Linked DNA regions of Homo sapiens: region 2 is linked to region 1. Evidence: fine-mapped expression QTL. Tissue or cell type: visceral fat. Region 1 holds a variant in brackets; the other region holds the start of a gene. All regions are shown on one strand. Distances are between the middles of the regions.

Evidence for each region. PIP is the estimated chance that this variant, and not a neighbour inherited with it, causes the effect.
Region 2: FAM114A2 starts here. The variant in region 1 is fine-mapped to the expression of FAM114A2 in visceral fat (GTEx, PIP 0.93).

What each region holds. Positions count from the first base shown.
Region 1 is chr5:154,086,721-154,096,998 of GRCh38, reverse strand. No RefSeq gene overlaps it. Among named protein-coding and RNA genes, the nearest start is that of MFAP3, 53 kb to the right of the region's middle. The variant T/C (reference allele first, on the strand shown) is at 4,822.
Region 2 is chr5:154,033,286-154,043,563 of GRCh38, reverse strand. FAM114A2 (family with sequence similarity 114 member A2) reads left to right here and starts at 4,654. Exons shown (of 14, transcript NM_018691.4): 1 at 4,654-4,707; 2 at 8,597-8,820; 3 at 9,187-9,286; 4 at 9,681-9,773. The coding sequence starts at 8,611. It overlaps MFAP3 (microfibril associated protein 3), which reads right to left and starts at 4,597. Exons shown (of 3, transcript NM_005927.5): 1 at 4,553-4,597.

The sequences.
Region 1 (10,278 bases):
TCCAGGGTCAGGACGGTAAATATGATTTCTAATACTCAACTGGAATGGTAGGTAAACATAAGCAAATTTAGTACCAATTATATTTAGTAGTTGCCACTATTGCTCGTGTATTATGTGTCAGGCACTGTATGATAAGTATGCTGTATCATTTTCTCATGTAATCCTTATGACAAACCAGTAAGTAGGTACAATTATTGTCCCTATATTTTAGTCAAAAAAAACTCCTGGAACTTAAAAAGAAAAAATAGTTTGACCGAGGGCAATAGATTGGTTTTGCACTCAGGTCTGCCAGACACCACGAGAACCTGACCTTTTAACCATCATGTTCTGCCTGGTAAACGTGCTCAAGGAGGGGTTCTAGAATACATGGGAAGGTCAGCCCCTGGCTCATCTGGCAATTAAAGGCAAGGCACTTTCTCATGGAGCTTTGAATTCTCCAGCTGTAAAATTAATGGGTTAGCTCTAAGCCCTTGAATTAACCAGGTAGCCCTGTTTTAGTGGTGAGCTCCCTGTCCCTGGATGTAAGCTTGAAGCATAGCTAGGGAACCACATGGCAACAACATGACAGAAGGGGTTCAATCACAGGACAGCAAGATGGGTCCACACGACCTTTACTGTTCTTTCTTCTATGAGAGTCTTATGCCAATTTGTCTTAAAAATTGAAATTTTCAAATTTTCAAATTGAAAAGGCCAATGCTTGTGCTCCCTAGGACCTGATCTTGCCAATTTTGAGGCTGCTCTATTTGTCTGCTGCAATTTGCTATGGTGACTCAGCAGGAGGCAGGGAGGAGGCACGACAGCCAGCGCTCAGCCTTCCTCCTGAAGATGTTGCTTGGCTAAGGGAGGGGACACTGGGTGGGAGGTCCCCAAGATAATTGCTCTGAATATATTTGTTGCTGATGTTCCCTTTGTCTTCAGCAGGCGCCAGATTTCCCCACTCTAGCCGAGTTCTCACTTGGTTGAACATTCGAACAAACGCCCATTAGGGAAGCTTGTCACTTTCTCATTTGAGGGAAATGTCTGACGCAGAAGGGCAGGTACCACTTAAAATGTCAAGGCAGCAGTGTAGCTAGCAGGTAAATTTCTGTGTAAAACTCCACTTTCTGCTTTGGAGAAAGGAAATGATGTTAGGATTCTTGTATGGCAGTCAGCCACGAAGACTATCTTGAGCTGGAGAGGAAGGGGTAAATGATCTCAGTAATCCAGACAGTTCTTTCATCAGTTTAAGATTCCAGTGCTTACTCCCCCAAACCCCAACATTTCTGGTCTTCATTCAAGGCACCCTGTTCTCCTTCCAAGGCTCCTCTTCATATTCCCCATTAATCAACACTTCTTCCATCATTACCTCCCCTATCTCTACAGCAATGTCCACATTCCTCTCAGAATAATGTCCTAACTTATCTTCCTGACCCTAACTTCTCTGAGTGACAGTCTATTCTACAGGCAGTCCTCAACATCAGCTTCCCAGCATAGAAAATTTCAATGGTTTCTTGAGTGTTTACAGAAAACAAAAGACACCTCCCCAACAACCCCCAAGCCTAACACTTATGAGTGCTTGCTGCATGATGCCAGGTGCTTCATGCATTAACTTGTTTTTCACAACAGCACTATGAGTTGGGTACTAATAAGTACATATTACAGCTGAGTAACATGAGGCTGAGATATTAAATAACCTGCTTAAGAGCTCCCTACTTGTAAGCTCCTAACCCAGATTTAAACCAAAGTGGTCTGCATTTTTCTCCCACTTTCTTTTATTATTACTATTCATAGACTATTTTTTAGAGATTTTTACGTTTACAGAAAAACTGAGCAGAAATTATAGTTCCTATATACTCTCTTATCCCCACCTCAGTTTCCCCTAACATCTTGCCTTAGTGTGGTTTATTTATTATAAATAATGAATCTACACTGACACATCATAGTCACCCAGTCCATAGTTTACAGCAGGATTCACTCTTGGTGTTGCACGTTCTGTGGGTTTTGGCAAATGTGTAATGACATGTATCTACCTTATACTATTATACAGAAAAGTTTCACAGCCCTAAAAATGCCCTGTCTCCCACCTATTCATCCCCTCCTTCCTCTCCCCATACTTCTGGCAACCACTGATCTTTTCACTGTCTTCATAGATTTGCCTTTTCCAGTTGTCATATATTTAAAAGCATGCAGTAGTACATAGTCTTTTCAGATTGGCTTCTCTCACTTAGCAATATGCATTTAATGTTCCTCTATGTCTTTCTGTGGCTTGATAGCTCATTTCTTCTTCTTCTTCTTTTTTTTTTTTTTTTTGCTGAGTAATATTCTATTGTATGGATGTACCATAGTTTGTTTATCCTGGTATATATTTTTAATTTTTACAATCTATAGCTTCCTTGAAGGCACATTACTTAGGCTGAAGTTTCAGATATTTCCTAATCTGACCCTCGCCTTTCATCCCAATTTTATTCTGACCTCACTGTTCCCTGAACATGACCTTCATTTCTCTGAGCTTTTGCTTGGAGAACATTCCAGGAATGTTCAAGCATGGATAGCCATCACCCCACTGCCATACGGCAGGTGCGGAACCTAAGACCAGACTTAAACCCATTACTGAATTGCATTTCCCAGGGGATTGATTTAGGAATGAGAATGTTACCTAGTGGGAACCAATGAAACCTGCATTGAGAGTTCATAAATTTGAAGCTGAGAGGGTATGAGGAGCAGTGGCAGCTCTATTGTGGCCCAAGGGAGAATGTGTCTGAGAACAGGATCATTTGTGGGAGAAATGAAAAAGAGAAATTAGGTCATAAGGATATAATATACACCCACAATCAAACTGTATTCATGTGCACCTGTACATTCTTTTTCATTCAAGTGTATTTTGGTTGGGTTTCTGATATTTGCTACTACAAGGACTTGCCAATACAGGTGAAGAATGGTAGGTACTATAAGAACAGTATGGCTCAGTTTTCCCAACAGACCATCTGTAGATTCACTATTCATTCAACAGATATTTATTACATATCTATTATGCTCCACATGCTGCACTGAGTGTTGGCCACTGGAAAGGACTAACAAGAGCTTTTTGAAGCACAGAGATAGTGAATCCATGCATACGGGGGTCCCATCTGCACTAACAAACACATTTTTTTAGCAAACATTTATTGTAGGACACATGGGGTGGTGTGAGGGGTTTTTCTGGGTAGCAGTAGCTCAGTAGGCTTACTCCTGACCCAGCTACCTAGAGGCTTTCAGTAGTTTCTAGTTTCTTCCACTCCTGGAAGAATAATGCAGGGCAGGAGTCAACAAAGCCAGACCCCACCACCACTACCACCATCATTGGTGGGAAGGGGTTTCTTCCCCTGCTCAAGCCTAGTTCTGATTGAACTTATGGGTGCCTAAAAATTCATCACCTCTTTGTCTGGCTCCACAGAGAATTCAGCCTAGTGAGCAGGTGATGGGATATGGCAGCATAGAGCCGTTGAGTCAGGGCTCACTCAGGCTGTGATGGGGTTGATAGTGCTTGCTGCATCTGCCCATGGAAGGTATACTTGTAGCTCGTTTTTCTGAAGAGCACTTCCCTTTAATCAAATATGTGGTGCCGCAATTCTGAAACTTTAACATGCATATGGATTTTCTGGACATCTTGTTAAAATGCAGATTCTGATTCAGTAGCTCTGGGGTGAGGCTTGATATTCTGCATTTCTAACAAGCTCCCTGGTGACACTGAGAGTAGCAAGCATGTAAGAAACAGAACATGAATTTATCTTGGGAATATTGCCTGTTTTGTCATTGGGCTTGCTGCCTGATTTCCTTAAAATCTCTGATTGTTTCTTATGCTTTAGAGAAATACTTGCACCTGGCTGAGTTCAAGCATAAATTCCACCTTTAAGTAGGGACATTTTCAACTTGCAATATACTCAAATGAGGGCACCTGAAATCAATAGCGAGGCAAACTATTTAATAACCAATTTAGTTATTCAGTAAATATCTGCTGAGCTCCTACAGTTGCTGGACAGTTGCTCTATTTTGGGATAACAGCCATGAACTAGAAAGACATAGTATTGTCCTCTTGGGACTTCCAGTCTAGCAGTCACAGAGACCAAAACTAAGCAAGCAGACAATCAAATACAATAATTTCAAGTTGTGGTAAGTGCATGGATGGACACTAATAAACGGTTAAGTTTGAGACTAGTAATGGGGAAGGGAGTATTTTAAAATAAGTGGTTGTATTAGTTTCCTATTACTGCTGTACAAAATTGACACAAACTTAGTGGCTTAAAACAACATAAACATATTTTCTTACAGTTCTAGAGGTCAGAAGTTCAAAATCAACTTCACTGGGCTAAAGCCAAGGTGTCTCAGGGCTGCATTCCTCTTGGAGGCTCAAGATTCTCTGCATGACATTCCATTCTGCAGGCAGTTCTGAGCAACAGCTTCCCAGCAAGTAAAATTTCAATGTCTTCTTGAGTGTTTACAGAAAACAAACAACATCTCCACTTCCCCCCCATCCCTAAGCCTAATACTTATGAGTGCTTGCTACACGATGCCAGGAACTACACTAGGCATTAACTTGTTTTTCACAACAGCTCCATCGGGTGGGTAGAAAGAGACATATATTACAGCCGAGTAAGCTGAGGCTGAGAGATTAAATAACCTTCCTAAGAGTTCCCAACTTGCAAGTGCCTGACCCAGATTTAAACCAAAGGGGTCTGCATGTTTTTCTCTCTTTCTTATTACTATTCATAGACTTTATTTTTTAGAGAAGTTTTAGGATTACAGAAAAGGTCAGATTCTGGAGGGGAAAATTCACTTTTCCAGCTTCTAAAGGCCACCTGAATT[T/C]CTCAGTTCAGGGCCGCTTCCTCACATCATGCCAACCTCTATATCTGCTGTTAAATCTGTTTCTCTCACTCTGCCTTTCCCACCCTCCTCTTATAAGAACTTCTGCAATTACATCAGGCTCACCAGGACAATTCAGGATAATCTGCCCATCTCAAGATACTTAATCACATCTGCAAAGTTCCTTTTGCCATGTAAGGTAACACATTCACAGGGTCTGGGGATTAGGATGTGGGCATCTTCAAGAGGGGGAGTAGGCATTATTCTATTTATTACAGGAGTCAAGAAGGCCTCTCTGAGGAAGTGGTATTTAAGCAAAAGGCTTAGTACAAGTCAGACATGGGCAGACTAGAGGAAATAGCTTTCCCAAAGGAGGAAACAGTAAGAGCAAAGGCCCTGAAGAAGGACGGGGCTTTTTAAGTACAGGGACTGGAGAGAATGCTAGCATGGGGGAGCAGAGAGTCAGACAAGACGAGAGTGGAGCAGCAGGCAGAGGCCTGACCCTGTGGGCTGTAGTGAGGGCTTTGGATTTTATTCTAAGTGTGATTAGGAGCCATTGAAAAGCCTAAGCAGGTTATTGCAGTGATCTGATTTGTGTCTGAAGGGGTGACTACTACTTGGCTTGAGCTCATTCTTCCCATGTAGGAATGCCAGCCCAGTGTGGCCAGGTCTTCTGACTTTTCAGGGAAAGGTGCAAATCTGAATATTTCTAATGTTAAACCCTCCATTTAAAATTATTGAAGCCAGCCGGGTGCGGTGGCTCACGCCTGTAATCCCAGCACGTTGGGAGGCCGAGGCGGGTGGATCACGAGATCATGAGATCGAGACCATCCTGGCCAACATGGTGAAACCTCATCTCTACTAAAAATACAAAAATTAGCTGGGTGTGGTGGCACATGCCTGTAGTCCCAGCTATTTGGGAGGCTGAGGCAGAGAATCGCTTGAACCCAGGAGGAGGAGGTTGCAGTGAGCCAAGATTGTGCCACTGCATTCTAGCCTGGCAACAGAGCAAGACTCCATCTCAAAAATAAAATAAAATAAAATAATTAATAAAAATAAAACAATTAGCTGGGAGTGGTGGTGGGTGCCTATAATCCCAGCTACTCAGGAGGCTGAGGCACGAGATTCACTTGAATCCAGGAGGTGGAGGTTACGGTGAGCCAAGATCGTGTACTGCACTCCAGCCTGGGCAACAGAGGGAGACTCCGTCTCAAAAATAAAAAAAAAAATTATTGAAGCTATACTGGAAAATTTTAAGGTACACACGCAGGTCAGGTTTGGCCAGGAGCTACAGGGACACCTTCTCTGAAGAGGCTCTGCTACATACTTGCTGCATGACGTGGGGTGAATGACCAAACCTTCTGAGCCCCAGGTTCCTGGTTTGTACAATGGAGAATAATGGTGGTTATTGCAGAGGGTTGTTGTAAGGATTCAGAGTATATCAATGACAGAATACATATAAAATACTTAGCATAGTGCCTATAAGCATCCAATATGCGCATATCCATGTATATGTATTTTTTAATTTGAGGGGATTACATGAAAATTGGAAAATAGATGGCCTTTAAAATTGCTTCTGGCTCTGAGATTCTAAGATGATTAAAAATGTCCTTATTAATCAGACCATATATTTAATAGTGACCTTGAGTTGCCTTTCCTAGCCTGGATTTAATTTCCTTATCCAGTATGCATTGTACAGAATGCATCTTTGGTAAGATGACAATGGACTCTAAGACAACTATGTTTGATGGCAAAACCCACTGCAGTGAGGAACAAAATTCTCTGTTGTTGATTACACACAAAACCAAGGAGTAGAGCCCCAGTGATCATGTAGCTAGAGATCCAGCAACTTTTCAGTTTGCCCTTTTCCTCAAGGGCTTTGGAGTTGTGCTTCTGACAATTCATGTGGTTCTTTCCTCCTTTCTACCCAGTAGAGAGGAATCTGGGAAAGGGATGGACATGTGTAGCTCATTGCCTGAATGTGGGCAGGTGAGCTGGAAGCTTAAAGGCTTTTGCTCAAGAGGACATCGTCTGAGAATCATGCTAGGTATCTCTTATCTCCAGGACCCAATGCAGTAAAGTATGGAGCAGAATCAGAGCAAGACTGATCCCAGGCAGAGCTCCAGGCAGGAGTGGTTGTCAACAGGCACTGGAGGATGTGCTGGGTTTAAATCTTATCAACCAAGAGCAATTCTTGCAAATGACAGTGACAGATAAATTGCTTGACTTCTTGGAATACCACCCAAGGACACTTGGGCACAGAAACACACCCACATGCACACAGAATTTTGATTTCTTTATCAAGCTTCAGAAAAGTTGGAAAGATAAAGAGCCATCCTTGATACCAACACATCTCTTTCTCTAATTGAACATCCCCAGCAGGAGTCTGAGGTCACAGCACTAAGCCAGATGGCCCCAAATTTTCTGAATCTGACTTTTCAATATCTCTAATAGTGTGAGGAAACTGCACAGTACCATACAGACATCAGGCATGTATTCTAATGTTACTCTTGCCCTGGGATGGCATTCACTCAGTGAGCTTCAGTGTTCAAGACTGGCCACTAGGCTTCTTTGTTTGCAAATTGCGGATTGGCTCAAGTTAACTCAGGCCCAAAGGGGACCTGGTGGAAGACTGTGGGGCTGACAGAATCAAAGGAAAGGTGGGCACCTCAAGCAGGGCTAGCAGAGGGATCCAGGGCAAGAATGGACTCACTCCCTAGGGACTCCATCTGGTGAGTCTGTGCCATGGTTTTCAGTTCCTGGTGATTGTGCTCAGGATTTAAATCCCTGAGAGGTTCTCATGGCATGAATTAGCTCTTTCCTTGGCCAGAGAATGGCCAGCACTAACAGGCCCGCCAGACTGCATGGTATGGGAAAGGAAGTTTCTTCAGAGAAACATTGATGTACTATTAGCAATAGAACGGGAAGAAGGCAGGCAAGCAGAAACAACAGATGTCTGCTGCAAAGGCCTTGCCCAAAAGAGGTTCCGGCCGTCCCTGCTGTCCCAAGTCCCATGACTCCTAGCGCACACTATCCCCTCTTCTTTACTATTAGGTTGGTGCAAAAGTCCTTGTGGTTTTTGCCATTTCTTTTCAATGGCAAAAACTGCAGCACCAACCTAATATATTCCCCCTTCCTCCAGTTCACACCCTGCACACACCAGGATAGTTCACACCCTGCACACACCACGATAGTTCACACCCTGCACACACGATAGTTCACACCCTGCACACACCAGGATAGTTCATACCCTGCACACACCAGGATACCCTTGCTGCCTACCTCTGCAGGGTCCCCAGGCCCATGTCATATGAGGTGGACCCTTGTGGATCTCTGCCTATGATGCATCATGGTTTGGTTTAAATTGATTGACATGGCACAACGAATAAGGTTTATTGAGGAAATGGAAAACTTACAAAGCTGGTGCTTCTATACTTCACAGGGAGGAGCCATTTCTGGGCCTGCAGTAAGGATCTGATTGCCAGTAGGGACCAAGTGGGCCCTGTTCTTCTCCCATTTGTAGACCAAAAGTGAGAAAACAGTCTTTGAAGAGGGTGGAACACATAGGCTACTCGGTGCTATCAGTCCAGAATTATGGGGCCAACCATGTAAAGAAATAGTGTGGGGACACCAGCTGTCCTGCAATTCATCTTACGGTGCATAGAAAATTAGAGTCCTCCCTCCCAGGTGAAGGAAGCCAGCAGTCCTGTAGAAAGCTGAGTGTGGGGGCAGCCCTTCTGGTGTGGAGAAGGAGGGGGGATCCTGGTCCTAGCTAGCTTGTTTTCGGGCAACCCAGGACGGACAATTCTCCTAGCTGCGCCACACATACCCAACTTATAGTTCCTTCACTGATACACACTCCCAAGCTCTAATACCCACAAATTAGACATCTTCCATTTCTCTGAACACCTTATTAGGGTTCCCTTGAGAATTTTCCCTCTCTTTCCTATGTTGGTCTTTATTCATCTCCTCCGAGCCTCATACCCTAGATTTTAGAGGCCCATGTTCCTGTCTTCTCTACTGGACTATAGTCTTATCAAAGGTATTTTCCATATGCCTCTTACCTTTGTAATTTTGTCATTAATTAAGTGTTTGATCCAAATAGGCCCTCCACACAACATAGAGTTGATGAAAGAGTGAATGAATGGTTCAGCTGCAAGATGTAAATCTACTCAGAAATGAAATGAGGATGGATCATCCAAAGTAGCTCTCTAAGAAATGTGAGGAGGCGGTATGGATGACAACACTACCAGGGATAGATGAATGGCAGGAAACCTTGTATGGTTTTGGGGGTGGAGTGGTAGAGATGGTGTTGTTGAAAACATTGATTCCCTCAACGAATATTGTCGGTCATCTTCTACACATCAGACCCTGGGCAAATCCATGGAATATACCAGTGAATAAGGCATTTAGGATCCTTAACCTGAAAATGTAACAGGATATTCTTTAACTTCCTTTAAACCCTTAGAATGAGTTTTCTTTGCTTCACTAAGTCCTTAATACTCCAAGATAAACTGGGCTGTCTCAGATCCAGATTTACTAGTGCATGACATTGAATCAGAGGGAAACCTGGACCAAAAGGTGCCTGTATTTGTTAAAGATTAAAAAAAAAATAATAAAAATCTCGTTTCTTTCTGTCTTTTAATCTGCACACATTCACATGGTTGGTCACATGGAAGTTGAGTCAAGATTTGCTCTGCACAAGCCAGTTATTATGCCAGAGTCACAGCAGGGGGTGGCATTGTTTTGACAGACTCACAGGCTCCAAAATGTAAATGGCTTAAATGTAACATGCCAGCTCTGTGAGCTGTCACTCAGAAAGTGCTCAAACCTTTCATCTGTCCAGAGTGAAGTCTGATCAACGGTTGGGTAGGGGGTCTGGCTTCAGGTCCATGCCTCTCTTACTCTCCAGCTCTGGGTTTGGGAGAGAGATGGGAGACAGAAGGCACTGGATTATTTTGAAAACCTTAGCTTCATCACTAAGAATAAAGCTTAGAGATTGTAAAGCATAGGGCCCCCTTTTCTATAGCTAGTATGGGTGAGGAGCCTTATTAGTGCCTTCTCTAATCACTTTGTTGGTTCAGTTCCCTATCCATCCTCACTTTAGTCACCCATTTGGATTAAGGAGCCCCACAGGAGGGAAGCTCCTTTTCCTATTGGTCACTGACATATGGAGGGAAAAAGTGGGGGTTACACACACCATATGTCAGTTAGTTTAGGAATGTTGGTTTCTGTTTCACAAATGCATGTTTAAGTCACAGGTGTTTGAATGAGGATCAAGAACTACACAGTTGATTGAATGATTCATTTATTTTTAAAACCTAGACTCACTCCTCATGTCTCAAGCCCAACATCTGCTCCTCTGGGCCCCACCCAGCCAGAATTTGGCACTTGCCGTATACACCCACGCTTGTGTGTACTTCTGGAAAAGCATTTGTCGGACCATATTATAGTTGTTTG
Region 2 (10,278 bases), 53 kb after region 1:
GTGTGTGTGTGTGTGACGGAGTTTCGCTCTTGTTGCCCAGGCTGGAGCGCAATGGTGAGATCTCGGCTCACTGCAACCTCCACCCCCCAGGTTCAAGCGATTCTCCCACCTCAGCCTCGCAAGTAACTGGGATTACAGGCATGCACCACCACGCCTGGCTAATTTTTTGTATTTTTAGTAGAGACGGGGTTTCTCCATGTTGGACAGGCTGATCTTGAACTCCCAACCTCAGGTGATCTGGCTGCCTCGGCCTCCCAAAGTGCTGGGATTACAGGCGTGAGCCACCGCGCCCAGCCTATATTACCTTTCTTCAGCATTAATAAATAAAAATGTAATAGATAAGTGTAAGACTCAAGTTTAATCCAACTCCTTTTTCATCTTTCAGGTATACAGAATGTAAGCTTTGCTAGGATCATAAAGAATCAGAAATGTGGATGATTTTACCCCAGAAAACCATGTTGAATATTGACTATATTATTTTTAAAAAAGAGAAGAGCCTATAGCTGTCACCCCTAACAGATTGTCTTGTTGCCGTTCCTGCCAACTTCTGAGGGAAGAAATATTTCCATTCTGTTCCAATTTTCAACACAAATAAGGAAGTAATATGGCTGATTTCCGTTCTGGTGACTCAATATTAAGTTGGCTGAGGAAACTGATGTTTGCAGAAATAGTTCTGGGAAAATGCAAAGCAGGGAAACACATTGATGCCCAGGTGGTATTTTTTTTTTTTAAACTCCAATTATATTGGGATATTAGTGCTTCATTCTCTATAATCAAATGTGTTCTAGGCTGCATTTACAGCTCATCCACCCTTCTCTGCCTGCACTGTCACACTTGGAAAACGGACCAGTTCCTACAGCAGGCACACAAATTGACAAAGCAGCATTCTGAATCGGCAAAGGGGAGAAAAAGCAAATGAAGAGCAGGTTGTTAGCACTACCCTACCCTTTGCAAAGAATAAACACAAAGTTGTTCTGCCTAGACTCAAGCATTATTATAGGGATCTGTAACTAAAAAAGGTTAGTGACATTCAAACAGAAATCACTATCCTGAGGGCCATTTACTCAAAAGTTTCTAATTAAAATAGCCTTTATATTACTACCTTGGAGCTATCACATACCCCATAACTAGCATTTGGTCAGTCTGAGCTCAAACTTCAACATATCTTCTGGCACCTGGAGAAACATCGTCTGTATTTATCAGAGCTTTGCTTTAAACCCAGGATTATTTCAGTTATACCCATAACTTATATCCTTTTTGCCATAGGTATATTTGCTGAATAGCTACTGGATGCAAATGACAAAAACATCAATGAAACAGGCTTAGATTTATGATCTTCCCAGGCCATTTTTCCCCCTCTATAGTCTGAAACATCTCTATTTGAAACTCAGTCTAGTTAAAACAGAACTCCTCTTACCCTCAGATCTACTTGTTCAGCTTATGAACAGCTTAGATAATAGCCAGACAATTCTTCCAGTTTTGCAGTATCAAAATTGTAAGACAATCATGGCTCAGTGGTTAGGAGAATGGGCTCTAGAGTTAAGGTGCCTGATCCTACCCCTGGGTGAAGCCATAGGCTTGCAAGGCCTTAGTTTTCACATTTATTAAATAAAATAATATTAACAGTAACTGCATCATAGGGTAGTTTTGAGGATAAGATGAACTAATGTGGGTAAATTATAAATATATGCTATTGTTATTATTCCACCTCCTACACATTTTTCAATTAAGTCCTGTTGTCTCTGTCCTAACTCATATCCTTTTATCTCACCTGGGTATACCACACTATCCCCTTAATTTCAGAATGGATCTCCTTAACTCCTTTTACCTCTATGATGTATCCAAACACTGTGACACTCAGAATTGGTCCTAAACACAAATCTGAGCAATTCAGGGTAATTTTACAATCTACTGGTGATTTCTCACTGCCCATGAGATAAGCTTAAAATTCCAATTTGGCATTGTAATTCTCCAAGAATAGATTCAGGCAGCAGAACAGAAAGTCATGAGAAGCCCAGAGGTGCCTCTATGTACGATAATTGCTTGCAGGAGGAATGAATGGATTTAAACATTAAGTCTGGTCTTTAGTTTTACCTCTATCACAAATTAGCTATGATGTGCTCCAGTGGTTTTAGTTTCCTCACCTAGAGGCTGATTATCATTATCATTCGTTTCTTTGCTTAAATCCTATAATCTACCCAGCTTTCCTGCCATGGCTGAAAGCCTAAACTACGCTTGTTTTACTTTATTCTCTCTAAATAACTTTTCACCTTACTAGTTGTTCCTTTTGCTTAAAAATCTTTCTGCCCCTTCCCGTCAATATCTTTCTGGGGGAAACTGTACCCTCTCTATAATATTCAACTCTAATTTCATCTTATTCAGGAAACCCTCTCATGCCCACCCTCTTGTCAGATGAGTTTTTTTTTTTTTTGCTCTGTCAGTCCCCTAGCACATTAAGAGTACGCCATTATAAGACTTATCAGTTTTCCTCTTAGCAGTTAGTTATCCGTTCAAAAGACTGTAAGCTTATGAATGATAGAGTCTAAAAACCTTCTGTCCTTAGCACAGGGCCACTGCCTGTGGCAAGTGCTCAAAATTTTGAGTTCAGACACTCATCGACTTGGTAGTGTGAAAGGTGTCTGCTACAAACTTATTAACTTTCCAGAGCTTCAGGCTCTGGAAACTATTGATGGAGAGAGGTGAAGATAAGAAAGACACCTATCTTGAGTTTTAGTAGGCAGAACACTCTAGAGAATCATTTGACTGGTTTTCTCACTCTGTAATTTTCAGACCATTTATATCAAATTAATTTGTGGTGCTTGTTAAAGATGCAGATTTCTTGACCCCACAGACTTATTGAATTGGGATCTCTAGGGGATGCCTGGGCATCTGCATTTTTAATGTGCATATAGGTTTATTGATTTACAAATCAAACTCATATTTCTTTTACTGGCATGACAATCACCGTAATTCAGTGTAATTCTCAAAAGTGTGGTGCAGGAACTCCTGGGTGTCCCTGACACTGTTTCAAAACAATTTACATAATATTAGGACATATCCCTTTTTCACTCACATTCTCACACAATATGGCACAATTTTCTAAAAGTTACATGATGATTGATATTGTAAGAGAATGAAGGTAGAAGTTACGAAAATCTAGCTGTCTTTTATTCAGCCAGACATTAAAGAGATTTGTAACAATGTAAAACAATGCCATTCTCAATAATTTTTCATTTTGGAAAATATCCTTTACAGAAATGCTATCTATGTTAACATATAATGAGTTTATTTTAAAATGAATAACCTTTGTTGAAAGTTGTTTTCTAAAATAGTAAATATTGATAGCTATTATAAACAAAAACCCTTTGAAGTTCTCAATACATTTTAAAAGTATAAAGAAATTCTAAGATCAAAAAGTTTGAGAACTGCTGCTATAATTATCAGCAGCATTTAAAAAATAAGTGGCTTCCCAAGATTCCATACTTTAGCCCCAAATTCTATGCATTTTCCATTACAACAGAAAATCAGAGGAAATGATCCATTTTATATTTAAGCAGGGGTTTTTTTGTTGTTGTTTTTTGGAATTTTAACAAGCTTCCAGGTGATATTGATGAACCTAAATTTAGAGAACCACTGTCAAAAGCAAAGGAAAATATCTGAAGAGTTTTAGAAGTGACAATTACTCTTATCTGGGAATTAAGATGATAATTCCGAGGGCATTAAATGGAGTTGGAAAACATGAGTTCTTAAAGGCTAAGTCCCTTCACCTCTCTGGGATTCAGTTTTTCTTATCTGTACAATAAGATTGATTTTAATATTTTACTAGCTCTGTCAGTCTGGATTTCATGCATTTTCACTGCTCGAGGGCAACAGAAGAGTTGCATCTTTCTGATGAGGTCCCAGGAGTAATCTTAGAGTCATAAATCAGATCATGTCATTCATCTGCTTAGAAACCTTCAATGGTTTTCCACTGGATTCCAAACAAAAATCAAACTCTTTATCCTTGCTCATAAGCCTTACAAGATTTGGGCTCAAGTCCCTGGCCTCATCTCTCTCCATTCTCACCTTGCTCCTTTTGCTCTAGCCAGTGGCCTTTGTCTTTTCCTTGACTTTGCTAAGTTTGTTCCCACTATATGGCCTTTGCACGCGCTATTCTCTCTGCCTGGAATGCTCTATTCCAGATTTTCATACGGCTTATTACTCTCCCACTTCGTTCCATCACATTATCCAGTCTAAATTTCTTTACAGCACTTACTACCACCTTAGATAATCCCGTTTGTTGACTTGTTTATAATCTGCTTTTCGCACTGCTTGAGAGCAGGGCCCTTCCGTTCGTTGACTGATGTGTCCCTGGAGCCCAGGGCAGTGCCTGGCAGGTATCTGGCTCTCAGTAAGTGTTCGATGACCGAACTCCCACACCCAGGCCAGACTTTCAAAAGAATGGCAAACATTTTCGCCTCCTGCACTCCCGACCCCAAGCCACAGGCTACGACTCACGCCTCGGCGCTCCTAGTAGTCCCCTCGCAGCGACCCCAACCAAGCCGTCACCTACCCGACCGCCGTCTAGCTCCTTCCGGCCTCAGCGGCGGCTTAACTCGGAAGTTTTCTCGGACACACCGGCACGCCTCTGCGCTGAAGGAGCACTTCCGGGGCAGTAGGAACGCCGAGTCGGCTGCCGTGGCTGTGCTGAGGGTGGCGGCCGGATAGGTGCGGAGCTTCCTGAACGAGGCAGGAGGGGTGCGAGGTTCAGGGGCAGGGCCCGGGCAGCCGAAGTCGTTAGGGAGGCGGTGACCTGACGGTGGGCGGCGGACATCTCGCGGCAGGGTCGAGGGCTGTGAAAGCGGTTTAGTGATTGAAGCGCTACGTTTGTGTGAGGAATTCTTGTCGTTGTCAGCGCCTGAGAACTTAGTTGGGAGCGGACGTTTACGTCGAATCTCTCGTTTGGGACCCCATTCTTGAATGTGGGAAGAAGTGAGAGCGCATGTTTGCTCATCTAGAGACAGCCGTATTAATAACGATAGGATACAAACCATCACCCCACCAAGTGATAGCAGCTGTTAACCTGTGGGCGGTTACGTGCCGGTCACTGTTCCAAGCCCCTCACATATCGCGTCACTGAATCTTTATAGGGACCCAGAACTCCATTTGACAGATGAGGAAACGGAGAGGCAGACAGGTGACCTGACTTCCCCACAATCGCTGCAGGACAGGAAGAAAGTAAACTCCAGAGCCCGTGCTCTTAGCTACTAAGCTGTACTGCTCTTCATTTTGGTAAATGGGGCGGGTGGAGTGTATATATACGTAATATATATGTGTGTGTGTAAGCGTATGCGTTTTTATTTCTTAAAAATATGGCTCAGCCGTATTTATTTACAGTTATTGGAATCTTTCTCCTCCAACTGAGAAAATAACTGGAGGAGAAACTACAATTATTTCTACACGCTTACTACACAATGCCTGGAAGACTTACAAAAACACTAAATAGTGCAGTTCCACGTACTTGGTGTTTATTCCTTTTTTTTTTTTAACCTTTCTCCTAGATTATGAATGAGTTGAGGAAAGAGATGGTACAGTCATTCTAATAACGATAGTAATGATAATATAAACAACCATCACCATAAAAAATTCTCTTCTGGCTTAGCTCAAATATCTGGCACAAATGAAAGAATAGAGATAACCAGTGTTTAATATTTTAGTAAAGGGACTGTTTTGGCAGGGCATGGTGGCTCACGCCTGTAATTTTAGCACTTTGGGAGGCTGAGGCAGGGGAAGATTGCTTGAGGCCAGGCCTAGGGTTCAAGACCAACCTGGCCAACATAGCGAGACCCTGTCTTTAAAAATATATTTTGGAGTATGTCCTTCCAGTCTTTCATGGAATTATATGAATTTATGTAATATGTATATTATATATTCTACATATAGTATACTGTATATATTTATGATGATGATAATGATGCGTTGCAACCTGGAGAGAGCATAAGGAAAAGATAGGAAACATTTATTCATATACACAAAACATTAATTGAACTTTGTGCAAAAACTGTCTCGTCTTTCCTATTAGATAGGCCCTTGGAGTGAATGGCTTACATTAGTTCTCTATCTCCACAGGTACTGTGGTACTACTTGGTACGTAGTAGGTACTCAAAAAATGTTTGCGAGTGAATGAATGGCTACTTCTAAGTTGGTTTGTATGTCAGTGAGTAGTTGTATCTGGATTTTTTCTCTATGTGTTTTGGAAATGTGTAATGTGTTTATATTATATGCCCATATATTCTGAACTCCATAGTGTTGTCTTAATCTACCTTTCTAGCTTCATGCCTTCCCATTGTTCTTCTCTCTGCCATGGTAACTACTCCCTACTGTAACTGTCCATGTTCCATACTGTCAGACCTCAGGCCTTTGGCTGTACCCTCATGTTATTTCCATATCCTTGAATCCTGTCATTGGCATCATCATCTGTCAAAATCATAAGCTTCTTTTAAGGCAGGTGTTGCCAACTCAGATGCCTACAGAGGTTAATCAGGTAGCATAATTTGAGTGAAGTGGATTTGCGTGGGGGATTGTAGGGAGCTGGAGAGCAACTGCCCTAGCTAAAAGGGCCCAGCGGCTATTTAGCACAAGCTAGTTATTACAGAGTTGAATGTGGGCCCGGTGTTGCTAGATCTTTTAATTTTACAAGTTAGAAGTTGGAAGCCTATATTTTTATATGAAGTCTGATTTTTAAATGTTGGCATCTAGTTTTTGCAAAGGTTAAATACTGTGCAGGCCAAATAAAAACATCTGTAGGCTGGATTTGGCACTTAAATTCCCAGTTTGTGACCACTACTCTAGGCTTATTTCAGGTACTTTGTTCATGAATTACGTTGTCTGATTCTAATGGAGTTCTGTTTTTTTTCAGCATTTTGTGTGTTGGATGGTCTGGCAGGGATGTTTCAGCATTTTGTGTGTTGGACTGAATGCAGCACCTGTTATAGTGCTGCATCCAGTCTGCCTTAGTTTTAATATGCCTTTCTTTTCTAATACATTAGAAACATTTTGATAGCATGGGTTGGGTCTAATTCTGCACTTAGTACATATCAGTACATACCTACAGCGTGTGTGTACATATGTGTGAGATGTATTGATTTCTACTCTGATAATCCTTGGTTATCCTGGAAACTAGTGTCTGTTCTTTGTAGAGACACCAATAGTATCTTGGCTTTAATTGCCAAAGAGCTCTACATCTGGAAGGAATTGAATTGAGTAACACTGGTATTCAAAAGTTGATCTGACATAAAGCCAATCTGATGGCTTAAATTTCATGATGTCCTGGAAAAATTGAGGTAGGAATGATTAATAACTAGTAAGATTTTTAAGGACAATAAGTAAAAGGAAAAATTGATAAATTATACCTCATTAAAATTAAAGACTTGCTCTGAAAGGCCCAATGAAGACAATTAAAAGATAAGCTACATACTGGAAAAAAATATTTGCAAACCACATATTATACAGAATATATGAAGAGCTCTCAAAACTCAACAGTAAAAAAAAAATCTCATTAGAAAATGGGCAAAAGATACAAAGATATTTCACTGACAAGGATATACAGATGGCATATAGGCACATGAAAAGATGTTCAACCTTATTAGGTCTTAGAGAAGTACAACTTAAATCCACAATGAGATATCACCACACAACTGTCAGAATGGCTCAAATAAAAAATAGGGACAATGTCAAATGCTGGCAAGAATGCAGAAAAACTTATCAGTCATACATTGCTGGTGGAAATGTAAAATGGTGTAGCTAGTCTGGAAAAGAGTATGGCAGTTTCTCATAAAACTAAACATGAACTTAACCATATGACCCAGCAGTTGCACTCTTGGTCATTTACCCCAGAGAAATGATAGCTTATGTTCCCCCAAAAACCTATACATGAACTTTCATAGCTGTTTTATTTATAATAGTCCCAAACTGGAAACAATACAGATATCCTTCGATGGATAAATGGGTAAATTGTGATACATCTATACTATGGAATACTACTCAGAAATAAAAAGGAAGGAATACTAATACAACTTAAATGGATCTTGAGGGGCTTATGCTGAGTGAAAAAAGTCAATGTCAATAGGTAATATGCTGTATGATTTCATTTATATAACATCTTGAAATGACAGAATTACAGAGATGGAGGACACCTGTCCATCAGAGAGATCAGTAATTGCTTTGGGTTGGAAGGAGTGTCGGAAGTGGTTATGGCTAAAAAAGGATAGCACAAGGGATCCTTGTGATTGAACTGTTCTGTATCTTGATTGTGGTGATAGTCACACAAAGGTATACATGCGATAAAATTTTATAGAACTAAATACAAATGAGTGCGTTTAAAACTGATAAAGTCTGAATGAGATCAGTGGATTGCATTGATATCAGTTTCCTGGTTGTGATATTATATTTGTGTAAGTTTTACCATTGGGGGAAACTGGATGAAGGTATATGGGATCTCTGTATTATTCCTTATACTTGTATGTGAATCTATGATAATCTCAAACTAAAAAGTTTAAACAAATACTTTATACCAAAGAAGCCTATATAAATTTTTTTTGGGCTTTCATTTTACCAGCTGATGTTCTAATCATGTCAGATAAAGATGATATTGAGACTCCACTGCTAACTGAAGCAGCCCCCATCCTTGAAGATGGAAACTGTGAGCCAGCCAAGAATTCTGAGTCTGTTGACCAAGGTGCCAAACCAGAGAGTAAATCAGAACCTGTAGTTTCCACTCGGAAAAGACCAGAGACCAAACCTTCCAGTGACCTTGAGACTTCAAAAGTTCTCCCTATTCAGGTATCACAGACCACAGAAAAAGTAGGGTATCTATTAAAATATTAGGATTAAAAAATGTTGGGGCTAAAAGAAATTTGGCATAAATACCAATTTAGAATTGCTCTTATTTCTTTCTCTTTACAACCCTAAAATACAGTCTTTTCAGTTCTATAAATGCCTTTATGAATAATTGCTTTTGCTATGTGGTACTTACATGCTGATAGCATATATCTGCCAGTCAAGCAATACATTTCTTTAGCTAAATAATATGTATTTGTTCACCCATGCTTTTGGCTAATAATTAGATACCTTGTCTGTACATTCTGATTTTCCTCTAATTTTTTCATTTTTCTTTGCCTTTTGTTTTTCTGCCTACTGGGAAATTAGGATAATGTTTCCAAAGATGTACCCCAGACCAGATGGGGTTATTGGGGGAGCTGGGGCAAGTCCATACTCTCCTCAGCCTCGGCTACAGTAGCTACAGTAGGTAAGATCATCAGTCATTTAGTTATTTTTGTGTGTGTATTTATTTTATACAGATCTGCATTGCATATGACTTGGTTAAAATTCTTCTTCCTTCCATGTTTACTCAAAGGCTTTATAATTTGAGGATGCATTAGTAATGATGGGCTGATATATACTGCCACTAGAGTTTGTAGCATTTCCTCATTAGAATATTGAAGTCTAGGAATTATTACTGTGAACTTATTCTTTGGTGATGATGAATCAATTTTTTTAAGGAAATAGTGCCAAGATTAGTTATGTATTGTCAAAATAACATGTCTTGTGGTCCTAAATGATTTTAAAAATCTTCAAGTTTGATTTTTGTTTCTTCAGTTTTGGTGACAAATAGCAAAAAAAAAAGTTATTTTTCTCATTAGGACAAGGCATTTCAAATGTCATCGAGAAGGCAGAGACTTCCCTTGGAATCCCTGGTCCCAGTGAAATTTCAACTGAAGTCAAGTATGTAGCAGGTCAGTATATGGAAACATAAAGACCTAGAATTATGAATTGAAATGGAACAGTTGAACTAATTTTTCAGTAGGTATTTATTGGACATCTGATACTCAGGGCATCGTGGGACTGTAGTGAGAAAGAGTATTTAGAATCTTTAGTTCCCAATTAGACATCTATGTCCTTTAACTGCTTATGTGTCCCTTTACTTCACTTTCCACATCTGAAATAGAATGATATTTTATATCTCAAGTGACTGTTATAAACATTTAACAAATAAGGCCATGAATATACAATATAAAAATTGCTTAGCATTTTGCTTGGCATAATTGAATAAGAGACTAATAAGAGTTAGCTGAATCTGAGTCTGTTGTGACATGATAAAAATATTTTAATGTATTGTTTTGGGGGTGTATTCCTTTTGTGTTCAGATTTTTATGAAGACTACGTTTAATTCTAGAGGCTAGCCTTGATCAGACAGAAACCTACTCTCAAACTATGAAGGCTAGAATTATAACCAGAAAT